Linked DNA regions of Homo sapiens. The protein of the gene in region 1 interacts with the protein of each later gene in a pairwise test. Each region holds a gene or a part of one and is shown on either strand. Other genes may lie near its edges.

The links.
Region 2: the proteins of IL9R (region 1) and CRADD interact in a two-hybrid assay, tested with the Homo sapiens proteins (one large-scale study listed by BioGRID and IntAct).

What each region holds. Positions count from the first base shown.
Region 1 is NC_000023.11:156,000,424-156,004,229, reverse strand, and holds part of IL9R (interleukin-9 receptor isoform 1 precursor), read right to left. Parts: intron 2,901-3,806; exon of another isoform or gene 2,823-2,900; coding exon of another isoform or gene 2,722-2,822; exon of another isoform or gene 1,362-2,721; coding exon of another isoform or gene 1,325-1,361; coding exon 1,211-1,324; intron 782-1,210; coding exon 670-781; intron 554-669; coding exon 375-553; intron 1-374.
Region 2 is NC_000012.12:93,675,879-93,680,453, reverse strand, and holds the start of CRADD (death domain-containing protein CRADD), read right to left. Parts: upstream 3,080-4,575; 5' UTR 2,982-3,079; intron 2,884-2,981; exon of another isoform or gene 2,426-2,883; intron 1,686-2,425; 5' UTR 1,680-1,685; coding exon 1,382-1,679; intron 1-1,381. UniProt on the Homo sapiens protein: Adapter protein that associates with PIDD1 and the caspase CASP2 to form the PIDDosome, a complex that activates CASP2 and triggers apoptosis.

The DNA.
Region 1 (3,806 bases):
CTGCACCTAGACTAGGTGGTTTCTAAATCTTGCTTTCCCTTTCCTTCACAGTCTGCTGCTGGAAGCTTTTCCCAGCATCTTATTGGAGTCCTTCCTGGTATGACTGAAGTGCATTTCACATGACTCAAGTGCCAGCCCCTGCCCCAACTAGCAGCCGTGCATGTTTATTTCCTGCCAAAACCCTGCCCCTGCAGTAACCATATGGGCCCTCCCCTCCCAAGGGCCAAGCCTGCCCCCAGCCCTGGATCTCACTCGGCTGGGACTGAGAACACTCACTGGGCCACTCACAGGCTGCAAGGCCCTGCTCCAAACCCCCAAGCAGCCAGGATGTTCTTGCCAAGCGGCCCCGCCCCAGACCTATAGCTGCTGCTCACCGTGTCTCCGGGGCAGGTACTCCGGGTCCACCAGGCTGACCTGCTCCCTCCCAGACATGCAGTGGTGGAAAGTGATGGTGAAATTGTCAGATGGCACGAGCACTGCCTCAGGTGGCAGCACGACGGTGCACTCACTGCCCCGCAAGATGCACTTATGTGTGCCGCCAGGAGCCTGGTTGCTGGAAAGGGCATTTGTCAGCACCACGGGGCTGCTACACTGTCCTGGCATAGCTGCTTCAATCCTGGGGAACTCACCCTCATCCCTGTCCAGGTGGGCATGGCCCTCCATGCTCACCTGGTGAAGAGGAGCCAGGGGCTGGAGCCCTGTCCCAGCTCTGGGGCAGACCAGTGGCAATCGATCCTGAGAATGTTGTTGGTGAGGCAGGTGAAGGTTCTAGACCTTGGCCCTGGAGACAGTGACCATCAGGAGCCCACGGTAAGTACTTCAGGCCAGAGCTGAGCTCGGGGGTTGGGGAGGATCTGACAGCTGACACCCTAGCAGGGCAGTCACCAGTAAATGATCCCAGAATCTGTCCAGGGAAGCACTGGGAGGCCTGGGAAGTGATGGGCTCTGACCTGTGGTACACGGGCAAGTCAGATCTGGAGAGGCGTCAAGAGAGTGAAGGAAGGGAGACTACAGTCGGTCCAGGGAATGAAGGTAGGGAGGTAAAAGTAGGGAGACTAGAGACTGAGGTCCAGGCTGACCCCTAGAGGACATGCCCCAGCACAGTTTGGGCCAAACCTTTCCCTAGAGGCTTGACATCGGACAACCCAGTCCCCCAAACATGCCCTAGTTCTCCACCCACCTCATACAGACATTAGTGCCCAGCCCTCACCTTGTCCTTCCCCTGTGACAGAGACTCCCAAGCAGACACAGGTGCAGATGCAGATGCAGGCCAGGAGCCAGGTGCCCATGTCTCGCCTCAGGGCCTCACTCTCCAAGGTCCAGCCTGCAAGGGACTGGGCTGAGGGCCCTGTGCAAATCATCCCTCTCTGGAGGGGTGCTCCCCATGAATTGCTCCCCAGCAGAGTGCTCCATGGGTCCCCACCTGCACTCACACAGTGTCCTGTGTCCTAACACTCACACAGTGTCCAGCGTCCTGGACCACTGTCCAGGCTTTACTGATAAGGAACTGAGCTCAGAAAGGCCATTTGACTCAGCCAAAGACTCATGGCTGCAGGGTGTAAGGAACACCCTCAAACTTAGATCCTGGCCTCTGACTCAGCTAGGTCTCCACATCTGCCGAGAAGACTCCTCTCTGGGACAGTCATCCTCTGCCAGCCCATCCCCCATTCCCGGGCCCAGGCCCCATCCTGCAGGGGAGTCAGGGTTGGGGGAACTGGTCACTACCAACAACCACCATAGGTACATTTTCTACTTTAATTCTCACAACAGCTCTGTAAGGGAGAAGCACTGTCCCCGTTCACAGGCAAGGAACTGAGTCCCAAGGAGGGGAAATGACTTGCCCAGGGTCACACAGACAAATTCTAAGCAAATTTTTTTTTTTGAGACAGTCTCCCTCTGTCACCCAGGCTAGAGTGCAGTGGTGTGATCTTGGCTCACTGCAACCTCCGCCTCCTGGGTTCAAGTGATTATCCTGCCTCAGCCTCCCGAGTAGCTGGGATTACAGGCATCTCCCGCCATGCCCAGCTAATTTTTTTTTTTTTGTATTTTTAGTAGAGACGGGGTTTCACCATGTTGGCCAGGCTAGTCTTGACCTCCTGACCTCAAGGGATCCACCTGCCTTGGCCTCCCAAAGTGTTGGGATTACAGGCGTGAGCACCAGACCCAGCCTCTATGCATTCTCTCTCCCTTTTGTCCTCTTAAATAAAGACCCATCCAACTGTTCTGCCCCAGAAAGGTGGACGAGGGTGGCAGCAGGGTATCCATGCAACAGATGGCACTTTCTGAACTCTGTTGCACCCCTGTTCCAAGGCACCTGCAAAGAAGAGCAACACCAGAAGGGCAAAGCCCCCGGATGCTGGAGCGTGAGGCCTGAGCCCCAGGATCCCTAGGGGAGCCAGAGGTTGGCTAGAGATGAGGGGCTGGGTGTCAGGAAGTGCTTGGGTGTGGGAAGGCCGCTGACGCCCTATCACCCCATTTGCAACTCCAGATGGTACACCGATAGCCCCTAGGCAGGAAGCAGGGCCAGCCTGGTTATACAAGACTGATTACTGATAGGAGGAGGAAAAAACCAGACACGCACACAGACTTACAGCCTTAAAGGACCGCACAAACCAATGGGCAGCAGGCACTACTCTAACCCCACTCTGCCCCACTCCCGGCAGCGTATACAGGTACCCATAGGACAGTCCCCTGTTAAGACTGATGATCAGGAAGCCTCACCCTTTCCTAGAATGGAGCGTGCAGCCTGGAACCACCAGCCACAGCATGAAACACCGTGGCAAGTTCTCTGCAGCAGTGTCTGTCCGTTCTTGCAGCAGTTACTGGAAAGGTGGGAATGGGGAAGGCAGTCAGCCTGCTCTTGGGATATGTGAGGGCAGGGTTGGAGTCACCACCAGGACCTGGGGAAGCACAGGCACAACGGCCACAGCTGAGAGCTGACCCAGGCCCCAGAATGGACAACTGCTGCCCCAGCAGTGGAGAAACACCCACATCTATGTAGAATCAGGCCAGGCCAGCCACAGGCTAACCCAGGAGCAGACGGCTTGAGAGCAGGGAGTGGGATGGCTCCAAGCTCAGCAGGCCTCGTTTCTAGACAGGGAAGGGGGATGGTAGGGCAGGATCCACATGTGACACCTGAGAGCTACAAAGTAGGACCGGAGAGTTGGGTACAGCGACAAGGGGGTATGGCCATCTGAGGGGAAGTTCTCTGCTTTTCCTCTGCACTGAAAACTTACATCTGTACCTGGTAAGCTGAGCAGGGCAGGGTCACCACCCTCCTACAGATGAAGAAACTGAGGCTCAGAGACCTGGGACCTGCCCAATACCTGGCTCCTGACACCTCTCTTCTTGGCCCATTCCCACCAGCTTCCACATAAGCCTGTGAACTTCCCGAGGGCAGTGCCTGCGAGGCACCACTCAGCACATGCCCCAGCAGAAGGCACCACAGTGCTTTATAAATGGGGTGGAGCTGCAGGCAGAGCTGCCTTCCCCCATCCTTGACCACAGGGCCAGGCAGTCAGGGCAGATGCATACACCCTTACTCACAGGCTCCCTGCTCCTGAATGTCACCAGGGAAGCCTCACCACAGCTCAGACAACACCTGGTAACAGGCCGGTTGTGAGAGCAGGAGGGGAAACCAGTGTCTGCCACCTGGGACAGAGCTGCCCCTGACACCCCCAGTCCCGCTGGGGAGCCTGGCTGACATCACTGCCCAGCACAGCCTATCCCGCCTTGGATCTGTGGACATAGCCTTCAGCCCATGATCACTTTGGTCTGTTCTCAGAGCCCCACCCATTCCATGGCCT
Region 2 (4,575 bases), on another chromosome or scaffold:
GTTAGCTGGCTATGTCATGCTGATCAGGTATTCAGACATATGTCAAAATATGAGGTCCATGGAGCAAAAATAGTAAAAGTGGTCTTATTATCAGTATTCATTTTTTTTAACCAGTATTTAAAAAATAGCAACCACGAAGTCTGGGGCCCACTGAACCGGAATAGTTCTATCACTCTTATCAGAAACCCCAGAGAACCTTGATTCTCTAACTTTGTTAAAAATTTGCAAGCCAACTTTCAATTACTTTTTTTTTTCAATTTTTAATTTTTGCCAGTTCAGTTCTCTGCCCCTCTATCTTTGTGAAACAGAGTCAAGGGAGGTTAAGAAAAAGCAAGTGTTTCCATATCACATCTTCTTCCTGCTACAAGCCAGGCTAACAGAACCAGAACTGTTTCTCTCTTCTCCAGCTTCCAATTCTCCTTCAAATTAAACTGAGACCCTCCCCAAACTATTGCTCTTTGCAAAATTAAATACTCCAGTGTCTGAACAAAGCTAAACTAAAAAGGACACTTTAAACGAATAACCTTTAAAAACAAACTAAGTCAGCCTTCAAAATAATCCCCTTTGGCCACACAGGACAGCCCAGGGGACAGGTGCAGGGCATGCCTTCCTAGAGGCTGTCTCCTCCTCCATGAATCTGACCTTTTCCAGCTGGTAGCTCTGGCACCTCACAAATCAGTTGTCAGTAGGCCGAATGCCTGCTTTCCCATCTGCACTTTCCAAATGGCTCCTGATGCCAACGGCTGAGATATGACCTGGCTCTCTGATGAGAACATGCTTCCCAAGTGACATGCCAGGTTTCCTGGAAGCATTTCTAAATGCATTCTCTGAGCTCCCTCCCTCACCTCCCAGTCACGGTTCATTCTTCCTTCCCTGCACTTCCTAATGCCACCTCCTGATCCTATTCCTCCAACGTCATGTCCCTTCAGTCCCAAATCCTTACCCACTTTCATCAACCATTGACCCTTGTCCTGCCTTACATCCCAACTTCAAATCCAAAGGGCATAGTTCTGGCTAGGTGTGGTGGCTCACGTCTGTAATCCCAGCACTTTGGGAGGCGGAGGTGGGTGGATCACCTGAGGTACGGAGTTCGAGACCAGCCTGGCCAACATGATGAAACCCCATCTCTACTAAAAATACAAAACTTAGCAGGGCATGGTGGCAAATGCCTGTATTCCCAGCAACTCGGGAGGCTGAAGCAAGTGAATTGCTTGAACCCAGGAAGCAGAGGTTGCAGTGAGCCGAGATCACACCATTGCACTCCAGCCTGGGCAACAGAGCAAGACTCTGTCTCAAAAACAAACAAACAAATAAACAAAAAAGCAAAGAGCATAGTTACAACATTTTGGAGCTGGTTCAAAGTGATCTTTCTGAGGCCTACCTGCAGGCAGGTCGGTCATGGCCTCTTCCCTTGCCTTCTTCAGCTTCTCCCTGACCCAGGGAAACTCCTGTAGGGAATCTAGGAATGTATCAAATGCTTTAGGGCCCCTGGAAGGTAGGATATCCAGCAGGAGCATTGTTTTCCGGAGGCCTGTGGTTTGAGCATTGATTTCTTGAATATGGTTTTCCGTCAAGATTCCTTCCTGGTAGAGGTACTGAAGAACCAGTCCCTCCACCAATACCTCTGCACCCAGCTCCAGGCGAAGTGAGCGGAGTACTTGTTTGTCTCTGGCCTCCATTTCTCCCTGGAAAGAGCCAAAATCACAGCTCAAATTACAGACATGTTGATGTGGCCCTAAAGACAGTGTCACTGCAATGTAAGTTCCTTCAGGTCAAGCACATCTTTAAACCATAGCAGACTGCCAGGTCATGGTATTTAATTCACTGATTAAGCCAAGCCAGGTTAATTTTGAATGTTTCCTAACATAATGAACAACAATGAAGATGAATCATCTTTTCTGTTTCTGCTTTTCACACAATGGGGTCCCAGCTCAATTCCTCGTTCAATAAAGAAATTTGGAAAAAGAAAAAAAAAAAGTGGGTCAGAGACCCTTCTGAACAAGCAATTTTTATCTGAAGATTACAGAGCAGCACTAATTTTAACACGCTGGAGAAGAAATGGTGGTTTTATTTTCACATTGCCCTCATCAGACCTGCACCACCACCACCAAGGCAGAAACTGCCAAGGTGGACGCAGGTCCCCTTTTTTTGATCACAAGTATTTGCAAAACCTGATCAGTAATAGGAGTGCAGGACAGAAATCAGCAGGTTCAGAATTTAAGGCTCTTTTCGCTAAAAGTCCTCTACACGATCACCTTTAAGAAAATTGTTGTTTGTGCCCAGTCTACAATAAACTTTACACAATATACAGTCACAGACTCCATTCCTTCCCACTAAGAATTCCGAATCTCCAGCACAACACTGTCGTGGCCGCACATGCATGGGACATTTTATGGGATTTTTTTCTTTCAAAAAAAGCACACACCCCAGCACTGGTCAGTAGCCAGGCACGATTTGAAGGTGCAGTTCCACCACCCCTGCACCAGTGTGCTGTGGCTTGGTTGTGTGTAAGGCAGTGAAGGTTAAGTGACCGGGAAGGCAGGCAGGGATGACAGATGGGGCTTCAGACACACCCGGGCAGTACGACCACGGCTAGGCGACACCCGATCCCACACTCCCCCTCGCAACCCTGTAAAGTTCAGGAGGTGACAGGTGAGGAGGGGAGGTGTTCACGTTTGGCCGTGAGCGCCCATTGGGAACTATTTAAAAAGGCTCTGCTTCGGCCGCTGAAACCCTTGTATCAAACAGGAAGACTACGGGCGGTTTCTGCGGCAACTTGACCCGCTAAAGAGGGAGTGCTGGGAATGAACTAAAGAGCGGACCAAGGGGAGAGCGGGCCTCCGGCACTGCCGCAGCCACCCAGCCTTGGCCCGGATCGGAAATGCGGAGCAAGTTAGCGGGGCGGGGAAGCCCCCGCAGGGCCCAGGTCGCAGACGCTACAATGCAGGACTTTCAAAGAAAGATGGATTCCTGTTACTTACGTCTGCAACCACGTATCTTTGGGGCGGGGGAGAAAAACTGCAACCGGAATCCTGACTGTTAGGGAACCTGCCCCATAAGCACCATCTTTGTTAATGGCGAAAACCCTAAACAGGAAGTGTTGACACCATCTTTGTTGAGGGCAAGTACAGGAAGTGCTGTCGCCATTTTTATTGAGCGTTCAAGGGTCGGATCGAAGCTCTTCCCGCCATGCTTACTGTGGGTAAACAATTCAATAGCGGGGAGATGGACAACCGTAGTGTCACTTAAAGGGTATCTAAGTAATGGAGTAATTGAATCATTGCATTTTAACACAGTAACTCCATCAGGGCCTCGCACACAATTGACCTAACAGAGAGGCAGGTCAAAAGCCACCCTAGTAGAGAAGCCTTCTCTGACCTATCTGATTAAAACGGCAAGACAGCTGCGCTCATTTCCTGCACTCCCCATTAACCAGCTTTATTTTTTACGCATCACCATCTTATTAAAACTTTTCACTTATTCATTTGTTTATCCTTCTGCTTCCCTCCATTAAAATGCAAGGTCATTTATTTATATCAAGGGTTCCTGCCCGCAAAGAGTTTACAAATCTGTCAGTCAGGATTTCATTGCAGCACTCAGCTAGTTACTCCTAGTCAGAAAGGGATTCGTTAGGGGGAATTGGGGACATTCGAAATCATTGGAAAGGCTGGAGAAGGGCTGAGCTGAACATCCATGGATGACTACCTAGATAAGATTGCTGATTGTGGCTGCTGCCCACAATCAGGAAGATGGCGTCAGGAAGTTGCCATGCCTGGTCCCCAACCTCCTCTCAACACCGACAGAACAATTAACAGGACACTGGAACAGTGCTGCAAAAAACGGTGGTCTCCACGGCTGCATTTGCCAGCAGCAAGAAAACAGCACCTGCAAATCTTGCTTTGCTGCGTGCCATTGGTGAGACCAATCTGACATGCAGAATATTAGCAGCAAGGATGTCTAGAGCATGTAGTTGGTAGCTTTCCAGCTTGTGAAACACAAAAAGGTATAGTAAATGAGGGAAGGCCTGACACTTAAAGCCAATCTACTGCATCCACCACATTTTCAATGTGGAAAGCAAGAAAAAATGCATGACCCAAATACAGAGAAACACAGCAATGCCAAATTGGGTGTCCTTCCTCACATTCCTTTGTGAAGCGAGGCAGGCGATCAATAAATACATTCATTGATTCATTTTTAAATCAATTGGATGATACATACAGAAAGTCATATGCTTACTAAAAATCAGTTGACAGTACAGGGGGAAAAAACTCCTAAAATATTATTTCTGCAAAGGTTTTCACAGCCAAACCCTTTGGTGGAAAATGAAAATATCTTTGTTAAGCAAATCAATGGAGAACAGTTCTGAACCTCCCTCCTCAAAACCTTCTAAAAATTGTATTCAATTTACAGCATTACTATGCCAGTTACCATTTTACTACACCGTTAATGACAGTATTTTTACCTATGTGGCAAGTATTATTATTATTACAGTCATGCATTGCATAACAATATTTGGGTCAATGACAGACTGCATATATGATGGTGGTCAGAGCAATAGGCTATGCTATATGGCCT